Homo sapiens: one gene and its partners. The protein of the gene in region 1 purifies or fractionates together with the protein of each later gene. This does not show direct contact. Each region holds a gene or a part of one and is shown on either strand. Other genes may lie near its edges. The genes, in order: KIF23, CEP170 and PHLDB2.

What was found.
Region 2: the proteins of KIF23 (region 1) and CEP170 purify together in Homo sapiens (affinity purification with mass spectrometry; 2 studies listed by BioGRID and IntAct, with this or other methods). This does not show direct contact.
Region 3: the proteins of KIF23 (region 1) and PHLDB2 purify together in Homo sapiens (affinity purification with mass spectrometry; 2 studies listed by BioGRID and IntAct, with this or other methods). This does not show direct contact.

What each region holds. Positions count from the first base shown.
Region 1 is NC_000015.10:69,434,835-69,438,488, reverse strand, and holds part of KIF23 (kinesin-like protein KIF23), read right to left. Parts: intron 3,007-3,654; coding exon 2,927-3,006; intron 2,838-2,926; coding exon 2,718-2,837; intron 2,352-2,717; coding exon 2,228-2,351; intron 1,926-2,227; coding exon 1,767-1,925; intron 242-1,766; coding exon 84-241; intron 1-83.
Region 2 is NC_000001.11:243,245,195-243,248,848, reverse strand, and holds part of CEP170 (centrosomal protein of 170 kDa), read left to right. Parts: intron 1-3,654.
Region 3 is NC_000003.12:111,865,724-111,869,377, reverse strand, and holds part of PHLDB2 (pleckstrin homology-like domain family B member 2), read right to left. Parts: intron 1-3,654. UniProt on the Homo sapiens protein: Seems to be involved in the assembly of the postsynaptic apparatus. May play a role in acetyl-choline receptor (AChR) aggregation in the postsynaptic membrane.

The DNA of each region.
Region 1 (3,654 bases):
GGCCGTTGGAGCACAATATCTCCCTCAGAGAACAGTGCTAAAACACCAGCACATACATCTATCATAATAATGTCAAAACAAACCTTATATTCTAAAGTTTTGTTTTTCTTTTCCAGTCGTTCTATTTCCAATTTCTGTCCTGAGATCATCTTCTCCTTTTCATTTAGTTTCCCTTGCATGTGGTTTTCTTTACTTAAAACAGCATTGTCAAATTCTTGTAACAAAGCTTTAAAAGCATTAGCTGAAACAAAAACATACAGGTCAAGTTTTACACCAGTTCTAAAACAAACAATGATATCAACTTTTGCTAGCAGACACTAGATAAAATGTAGTTATTCAGCAAATCTCTGTGAGAATCAGTCTATAATGAGAAAACAAGTTTAGAGGGAAATCAGGAGCTTCATTCTCCAGTTGACAAGATATTCACAGAAGCTTTCTGTTAAATGCTGAAAAAATACTCAAGTCTTTCACTGTGCACTATAGCATTCTCTTCCCAATCCTTACAGGTACTTTGCTTCACAACAACAAACGCAAAAATAGAAACAACACTACTATTTGGGATTAATTAAACCTGAGCTGAAATCCTTGGAACATCACTTACTAGTTATGACTTAGGCGAGTTAATTAATATTTCTGGGCAAATTTCATTTCAGTATGGAAATTTAAATACCACTTTATCTCACAACTTTTTGGTAAAGATTCAAATGAATAATGATAATAAAAATAGTAGAGCCAGGCATGGTGGCTCACGTCTGTAATCCCAGCATGTTGGGAGGCCAAGGTGGGTGGATCACGATGTCAGGAGTTTGAGACCAGCCTGACCAACATGGTGAAACCCCGTCTCTACTAAAAATACAAAAATTAGCAGGGCGTGGTGGTGTGCACCTATAATCCCAGCTACTCAGGAGGCTGAGGCAGGAAAATCGCTTGAACCCAGGAGGCGGAGGTTGCAGTGAGCCGAGATTGCGCCATTGCACTCCAACTTGGGCAACAGAGCGAGACTCAGTCTCAAAAAAAAAAAAAAAAAAAAAAGTAGATACATTCATTCACTGAGATACATTCACTATGTACCAGAATTTACTGTTCTACAGGATTTTCATACTTTATCTTATTTATCTTCACAACATATCCTGAGGTAGAAACAATTACAATCCCCACTATGTAGACAGGGGAAACTAAAAAATATTTCTTTGTGTCTCCATCACTGTAAAAAACAAAAGAAAGAACACACGCTCACTTTTTTCTTTTTGACTTCCTTAGAATACAAAAAAGAGCTGTGGAAAAATGCCTTGTCATACTAATCAAACAATGCCTTGAGTGCTTCAAAGTTCTAAAGACACAATTTTCTTTAACTTCCTTAAATATGCAATCTACCATATAACTCAGATTCATTGAAAATACTTTCAATTTCAGAAGTTACAATTATTGCAAATTGGCTGGGAGTGGTGGCTCATGCCTGTAATCCCAGCACTTTAGGAGGCCGAGGCAGGCGGATCACTTGAGGTCAGGAGTTTGAGACCAGCCTGGCCTACATGGCGAAACCCCGTCTCTACTAACAGTACAAAAATTAGCCAGGCGTGGTGGCATGTGCCTGTAGTCCCAGCTACTCGGGAGACTAAGGCAGGAGAATCGCTTGAACCCAGGAGGCGGAGGTTGCAGTGAACCGAGATTGTGCCACTGCACTCCACCCTGGGGTACAGAGTGAAACTATGTCTCAAAAAAAAAAAATAATTAAATAAAATTATTTCAAATAGTTTTGCCCTTACATTGTTTGTTAAACTCATCAATCATCATTTGTCGTAAGTTATGTCGTTTCTCTAAGGCTTCAATCAGCCTTGGAAGTGTCTGCTCATCGTTGATATCCAAAATTTCGCATGATGGCAAAGGTGGAAAACTCTGCAAAACCACGTCAGTAACCAATGGTTCTGTATTGAATTATAGAAAATTACAAAAAGTTACATAGGAGAGAAAGAGCTTATTTAAACAAGTTTAACACTGCATACAGCCCCAGTGCAACTAACCATTGCAATTTCTTGAGCTGACATAAGTTTACTTACCTAAGAATCATAGTATGCAAAATAAGCTCATTTAAATTTTGTTCAAATTATTATGTGCTTGGTTCTTCAGAAGGTATGTAAACATTTCTCTTAAATGAAATAATTTTTTTTAAAAAAGAGAGAAACAGACAGACCAATGAGTGGACAAATGATACAACACCAAATCATACCATTTCCAACTGGACCTCGAGGCTGGTTTCTGTATCTCCTCCCAGGCGTTAAACCACATATTGCCTTGTCTACAGGTCTTGCTACTTCAACTTCTTGAGTCACTTCCGCAAATCTCATGACTTGCTAAAACACAAAACAAATGGAGTTTAAAAAAAAATAAGGATATCCAAGTCCCAGAAATTACTAAATGAAGCAAAGATTGCTTATTTTTATTTATTTGAGACAGTCTGTCACCAGGCTGGAGTGCAGTGGCATGAACACGACTCACTGCAGCTTCGACCTCCCAGGTGGGCCCAATTGATCGTCCCACCTCAGCTTCCCAACATGTTGGGATTATAAGCATAAGCCACCACACCAAGCCTAGTTTACTTCTACAATCAATGGTTCTCTATCCATTTTTAAAATATTCAAAATGTCATTCTGCTCATCCAAGTAACTGTTTTCCCGACAAAAACTCAAGACTTTATAGGACAAATACATTAAAATTACCAAGTTTTCTTCATAATCTTCAGCCTTGGGGTTCACACACACGATCATCCGCACTTTTCCTTCCCCATCAAAGTAGTTCTTGAACAGATGGGTTAACTTTGAATCTCGATATGGAACCATCTACAAAGACATTCATATCCAAATGTGTTACGCAAAAAAAATGCACACAAATGAAACTATACAAAAGAACAGAGAAGGCTGCTGCTTACCTTGTTAGTTCCATACATTTGGTTCTCTCTTAGGACATCCATACATGTTCTTAGCGTCATTAGTGACTGATTAATATTACCTGACAGAAAAAAATACATAGACGCCATTTCAGAACAACAGTATAGTAGCTAAAGTGTGTTCTGTTTGCCTATAAAATCTCAACTTCAAACAACTACTAGATAGAAATTATAAATAACAAATTTTTGTGGCTCAATATAAAGAGCTGTCTATGCATGGTCCAGGCTCTCTTTCAATAGCAGTATTTCTGGGAAGGTTAAACAGCCATCCTTCAGGGATTCTACCAACAGGATTTTCCACAAAATGCAACATTACAGTTAATGACTATAAGGTTTCTTCCAAATCCTAAATTCTCTGAAGGAATATCTTATATAGAGATGTTTAATATCCTCATATTAAAATATATTCTCTAGGCAATTGACAGGAATCATGGCGACCCCCAGGCCACCGTCCCGCTTCTGGGGGTGGGGGAAGAATATCGTCTGTGTGGGGAGGAACTATGGGGACCACACCAGGGAGATGCCAACGCGGTGTTGAGCGAGTCCGTGCTGTTTCTGAAGCTGTCCACGGCCTACACACCTGAGGGCTCGCCCATCCTCATGCCCGCGTACAGCTGCAACCTGCACCACGAGCTGGAGCTGGGCATGGTGATGGGCAAGCATGGCCGCGCAGCTATGGACTACGTGAGCAGCTATGCCCTGTGCCTGGA
Region 2 (3,654 bases), on another chromosome or scaffold:
GGAGGAAATGAGGTTGCATAGAGATTTTATTCATTGATTTTAAGTGCTATGAGCATTCATTGGAGGATTTTGAGCAAAGCCAAAAAATTGGGTTATATTTTTAAAGAATGGCTCTGGGAATTCTTTAAAACACTGGGAACCATGAGATAAGCTAGGAAATGATTGGAATGATCTGGTTTAAGAGACATTAATGGCTTAGACTAGAGCGACAGTAGTGGCAATAGTGAAAGTTACTAGTTTCTGGCTTTAGAGAGTCAAATGTTTTGGATATGTTAAGTTTGAAGTGTCTGTTAAACGCCCAAGTGGACACATCAGGTAGGCAGTTAGATATGTAAGTCAAGCATTCAGAGGAGAGGTTTGGACTGAGGATAGTTAAATGTTAAGCATCACCAGTAGACTTAAAGGGATCTCTTGGCTAGGGAGTTAGACTGAGAAGAGATCCAAGAATTGAGAATTGGTACTTTCCACATGGAAAGCTGAGCAAAAGAGAAGGCGCCATCGAGGAGGATTGAAAAGTGGACAGTGGGGTGTGAGGAAACTGAAGAGTGTGTTGTCCCACAAGCCAAGTAAAGGAAGTATTTTTAGAGATAAGGAGTGATCAGTCCCCTGTATCACCTTTAATCACCTAAATACTTCATAAGAAATCAGGCAGTATCCTCTTTCTTTCTGAATGGTCTCTGAGAAAGCAATTTCCTTTTTTAAATCTGGTTTATCAACATGAATGTTCACAGTTATTCTCCCCTGGCAACTACTAAATCTAAAGCCCTGAACAAAGTTTTACTCATAAAGAGGCCAATGCTGTTTCCTACGTGGATGAGTATGGCAGCTGCTGCTGCCTCTGATGTTTGAACAGGAGAAGCGATGCTGTTTCATAGGAAGAATTTATCAGGAAGCTAGTGATAGTCCAGCTACCTCAGAGGTTTATTGTGGTAGCCAAACGAGGTAGATGTAAAAACCAAATGAAAGGTATAATTGCAGATAGGGGTCTCCTTCCCTTATTGCCCCAAGTGTGGTACCAACTTGATAGTGTTAGATTTGAAGAACTATGTTGGCAAATAAAAATATTTTTCATTTTGAGTCTGTAGGAATAGTTTTTTACTTCCTATGCACTCTATCCCGATAGGCAGTTTCGCACATCATTTTATAATATTCTTGAGGGTAGAGAAAAGGGCTAGAAAGAGGATAAGAACAACCAGGGCAGGCGCGGTGGCTCACGCCTGTAGTCCCAGCACTTTGGGAGGCCGAAGCGGGTGGATCACCTGAGGTCAGGAGTTCGAGACCAGCCTGGCCAACATGGTGAAACCCCGTCTCTACTAAAAATACAAAAATTAGTCAGGCGTGGTGGCGCAGGCCTGTAATCCCAGCTACTCAGGAGGCTGAGGAAGGAGAATTGCTTGAGCCCAGGAGATGGAGATTGCAGTGAGCCAAGATCACGTCACTGTACTCCAGCCTGGGCAACAGGGTGAGACTCCATCTCAAAAAAGAAAGAAAAGAACAACCAGGCTTTGAGATAATAGCTTTTTTTCCCAATCCTAAACTCATCCTTTAATTCTAAACAGTGTCTAAATAAAGAGAATTGAGGTAGAAAAGTAAGCAAGTTAAAAGGCTTCCTTACTTTTTTTTTCCCTAGGCCAGCCAGGAAGACTTTCTTCTTTTAACTGACTTTTTTCTGGAAAGTGTTCAACTGAGTAATGGTTTGTCACATGTTACATGGAATAGAAAAAGTGCAAATTCAAAGCTTAGGGACTGGTTAGGGGTTTTGAACTCTAGGCAGCCAGCTAGAAACTGATTTGAGGAAGCAGGAGGGTGGGGGAAATGAGTCTGCTTGATGATAATAGGGGTAAAGTGCAAAATACTTATTTTGGTGAAAAAGGAACATCGCAAATACAGGACTTTTTGTGGTAAGCTTTTTGAGGCAATAGGACTATAACTTCACAATACATAGGTATCTTGCAGACCTTATATAATATGATTTGCTATGGCTGGTCATTAAATACTTCTCCTTGGATAAAAAATGCATATAATGCATTGCAAATTGAAGGCCATTTTATTTTTTATATTACAAATCTAATCCTAATACATGGCAGAAAATTTAGAAAACAAGATTTTCTACCATTAAGTACTATCATAATCCCACTAGCCAGTAACCCTGTTATGTATTCTTGTCTATTCTGGTTTAATTTGGTAACATTTTATCATGAAGTTAAACTTTCTGGCTCTAACTTTTAATGTGGCATAGAATCTGTCTTCTCAAACATGTAATCTACTTACACACAATTTATGAAAATTAAATGTATTTTTAAAATTGTAAACAACAGGCCGGGCCCAGTGGCTCATGCCTGTAATCCCAGCACTTTGGGAGGCCGAAGCCAGCAGATCACTTGAGGTCAGGAGTTCAAGACCAGCCTGGCCAACATGGGGAAACCCTGTCTCTACTAAAAATACAAAAATTAGCTGAGCGTGGTGGTGCACACCTGTAATCCCAGCTACTCGGGAGGCTGAGGCAGGAGAATCGCTTTAATCCAGGAGGCAGATGTTGTAGTGAGCTGAGATTGCTCCACTGCACTCCAGCCTGGGTGGCAGAGCGAGACTCTGTCTCAAAAAAAAAAAAAAAAAAAAAAAGTAAACAACACTGTAATGGACATTTCTAACTCTGAATTTCTGTGCAAATCAATGTTTTTCTTTGATTTCAACAAATTATGCTTAAAATACAATGCAGATACAAATGCAGAATTCTACTAATTAAACCTTTTCTAACTTTTTAATAAAATTACCCCCTCCAGTTTATATCAGTTTATTCTTCTACCACTGGCATATGAAACTGTGTGTTTCTTCACCCCTTCATCAGTGCTGAATATTACGTATCTTTTTTAAAATTTGCTTTCTTTTTTCTTTTTTTTTTTGAGACGAGGTCCCGCTCTGTTACCCAGGCTAGAGTGGAGTGGTGTGTTCATGGCTTGCTGCAGCCTTTACCTCCTGGGCTCAAGGGATCCTCTCCGCTCAGTCTCCCAGGTAGCTGGGACTGTAGGCATGGGCTGCCATGCCCATCTAAGTTTTTTTGTTTTCTTTTCTTTTTTGTGTTTTTTTTGTTTTGTTTTTTGTTTTTTGTTTTTTGTTTGTTTGTTTTGTTTTCTTGAGATGGAGTCTTGCTCTGTCGCCCAGGCTGGATTGAAGTGGCGAGATCTCGGCTCACTGCAACCTCTGCCTCGCGGGTTCAAGCAATTCTTCTGCTTCAGCCTCCTGAGTAGCTGGAATTACAGGCACACACCACCACACCTGGCTAATTTTTGTATTTTTAGTAGAGACGGGGTTTCACCATGTTGGTCAGGCTGGTCTTGAACTCCTGACCTCGTGATCCGCTCACCTTGGCCTCCCAAAGTGCTGGGATTACAGGCGTGAGCCACCGCACTGGCCAAGGTTTTTTATTTTTTTATAGAGACAAGGTCTCATTTTGTTCCCTAGGCTGGTCTCAAACTCCTGGGCTCTAGCAGTTTTCCTGTCTCAGCATCCCAAAGTGGTGGGGTTACAGGCATGAGCCACCCAATCTGGACAGTTTTGCCACTTTGATGAACAACAACCAAAAAAAAAAACCTTATTTAAATTTCTTTTATCAATAACACTTGACATTTTTTTAAAATGTGCTTATTGGCCATT
Region 3 (3,654 bases), on another chromosome or scaffold:
AAAGGATGCTACAGGAGGGAAAAGGGGCCCAGAAGGAAGTGGAGAGTGATGGGGGATAATGAGAACATTAAGTGCAGATGGAAGGAGTGGAGCACAATATGAAAGAAGTTCCAGCTTCTTCCTGTCACAATAAAAGAGTGTAACCCCAGGCTACGATTCCCTTCTGTTATCCCTAGCTGTATTGAAGTCTGAGCTCTGTCAAAGAAGAAGAAGAAAAAAAAAATTCCAGATGGTATTCGAAGGTTCCTAAAAGTAATCACAATCAACAGCAATAACCATATTTCAAATGAGGATCTTCATCTCCTGTGAGCAGAGGCTACTTTTAAATCAGTCTACATTGTTTTACGTTAGGAATTGTTAGAAATCTTATAGGTCTCTTAGTAAAGAGGGTAAGCCATCAATCATAGGGATTTTTTAAAAAGTTTTGTGCTAGTCCCTTGAGTAAGACTAGTCTGTAGGAACTTTAAAATATTCTTTAGACTCTGCAAGTAATTTAGCTGCATGTTCCCTGTGATAACTCTCTTCAGCCAGTGAAGAGGACAGGTTGGGGGAGGACAGAAAGCAGAAGCAACCTCAATAAACTTTTGTGTCATTAGTTTCCTCACACTTGCAAAATTCCTTACTTTTACATAAATCATCAAGGTGTGATTTCTTCAATTAGGCTCACATTTGTGTTAAAGGAGCTTTACCAATATTTAAAGGAGACAATATCAATAAGTATTGAAATATATATACACACACATATATATATATATAAATTCAGCTCAACACAAATTAAAAGTGTGCTGTCTGTGATTACAGAAAATACAAGGAAGAGAATAATATTTTTTTTAAAAAAAAGACAGAAATGCAATTACCTAATTCTAAAATATGGGAAAGTCCCCAGGGGTGGGAGGAAGACTCATGAATAAGCAAATGGCAAGGGGGAAAAAAAAACAAGAGGAAGAGAGAAGTATTCTCGATTAAAGAGACTGAGGGCGCATACCAATTAAATGCAATGTGTGGACATGGTTTTGGATCCTGTTTTGAACAATCCATCTATTTTTTACAATGTATGAAGCTAGGCAAGGTGGCTGAGGCTCATAATCCCAGCACTTCAGGAGGCCGAGGCATGAGGATTGCTTGAGCCTAGGAGTTTGAGACCAGCCTGACCAGCACAGCAAGACCCCATCTCTACAGAAATTTAAAAAATTAGCCAGGCATGGTGGTGCATGCCTGTATTTCCAGCTACTCAGGAGGCAGAGGCGGAGAGGCAGAGGTGGAGGCAGGGGGATCACTTGAGCCCAGGAGGGCAAGGCTGCAGTGAGCCATGATCATGCCACTGCTCTCCAGTCTGGGTGACGCAGCAAGATCCTGTCATTTTTTTTTAAAAGTATGAGCTGGGAGCAGTAGCTCAGGCCTGTAATTCCAGCACTCTAGGAGGCCGAGGCAGGCAGATCACTGGAGCCCAGGATTCGAGACCAGCTTGGGCAACATGGTGAGACCCCATCTCTACAAAATATACAAAAATTAGCCAGGCATGGCGGCACAAGCCTGCAGTCCCAGCTACTGGGAAGGTTGAGGTGAGAGGATCAGTTGAACCCAGGAAACCAAGGCTGCAGTAAGCCAAGATAGTGCCACTGTACTCCAGCCTGGGTGACAGAGCAAGACCCTATCTCAAAAAAATAAAAATTAAAATTAAAAAAAGACATATGAGACAATCAGAGAATTTCAGACTGGAAACTAGATGATAATGCTGTGGTTTTTTAAAAGTGTGATGATGATATATCTTAAAAATACTCTTAGAGTTACATTGTAAATTATTTACGAATGAAATATGATGATGTTTGGAATCTGCTTTATAACAATCCATGTTTTAGGGTAAAGTGAGGTTTACAAATGAAACAAGATTAGCATATATAAATAATTGTTGAAGCTGGGTGATAAGTACATTGATCTTTGTTTATTATTTTATTATTATTTTAGTATACATTTAAATTTTTGTGTAGTTTAATATTTTTCATGATAAAGTATCTTTTAAAAAAGCTACGTGCATTCTGCAAGTCAACATCAATAAAATGTGTATACTGCCTTAAAAATTATAGTAGCTGACTTTACAAAGAAGGTTGGGGTCATATCACTGGCTCCTAGCTGATTTTTTTTTTAAGTATAAAATACTAACTCTTTATCATACTGAATTAAGTTCCTAAAAGCTGATACATGTATTTTTAAGTAACTGGGAGAAGTTTGAAAGCAAATACATTTTCAAGATAACAAGTAAGCAGGCCATCACATTTAAGATATTTGCAAGATAACGTTATGTGGGGTAGCTAAGTGTCACCACTGCGTGCCCAAATAATGATTTCTTCATAAAACTGTCAAACCCTCCATATCAAGAATTCCAGCCTCAATTAAAAGGTTAAAATACACACACACACACACACACACACACACACACACACACACACCCCTTAGAAACTTATGTTAAGGAAGAGAGTGGAGGAGCTCTTTAGGTCAAGTTCTTCACAGAATCCTAACCAAGGATCCTGATCAAGTCCCCCGTAAAGCTAGAAGGGTCTTCCTTTACTACGTAATCACCCAGTGAAGTGCAGAATCATGGGATAACTAACTTCAGATACTCTTCTTTAATCACAGGAGTGCTACAGGGAAAAGCACCCTCTGATCTTTTGATCTCAAAGCTAATTTCAAGCAAGAGAATTATCAACCTGGGGATCATATGTAGATAAAGATGCTCTCTCTTGACCCTGAAACCACCTCCGTGGACTTTAACTGGAAGCTGAGGAGAGTGTATGGGAGGGAAACTCTCCGATCTTGCCGCCATCCTGCCCCATCCCACACTACTGATCAAAAGACACTCCCTTAAGAGTAATATTTAATTTTTCCAAAGTAACATTCCCCAGACCTAAATACTTGCTGGAATTCCCATTCCCTAACCCAAGATTTATGAACTGGGAATAGTCAGGGTACAAACAGGCTCACAAGAGGTGGAACAAACACAGGTCAACCACATCTTCCATGTTTGTAATGCATTTCGCTTTACATCACAAATTGAGTACATGAGGCCGGGCTCGGTGGCTCATGCCTGTAATTCCAGCACTCTGTGATGCTGAGGTGGGCAGATCACCAAAGGTCAGGAGTCTGAGACCACCCTGGCCAATATGGCGAAACCCCATCACTATTAAAGTACAGAAATTAGCTGGGTGTGGTGGTGCATGCCTGTAATCCCAGCTACTCGGGAGGCTGAGGCAGGATAATCACTTGAACCTGGGAGGCCGAGGTTGCAGTGAGCTGGATCGCACCACTGTACTCCAGCCTGGGTGACAGAGCAACTCTGTCTCCAAAAAAAAAAAAAAAAAAAAAAAATGAGTGGGTGGGGTAGGTTTCTAAAATATTGTAAAGTAAAAATAATAATTATGATAATATCATATCTTCATTACTTAGCAGCTGATTGTGCAGAATGAGTATTATAAAACACTTAATTTTTCCCTTCCATGCTATCTACCTTTTGACCACTTACTGCTTGAAAGAAGGGAAATAACTTGAACAAGTCAAGATAAACAATTGACTAAGTTTAATTTAATTTTAATCAATGCTTTTTTTTTAATAACTCTGGCCAAAAGATCTAATAAAGGAAATGGTTACGTTAGGATGTTA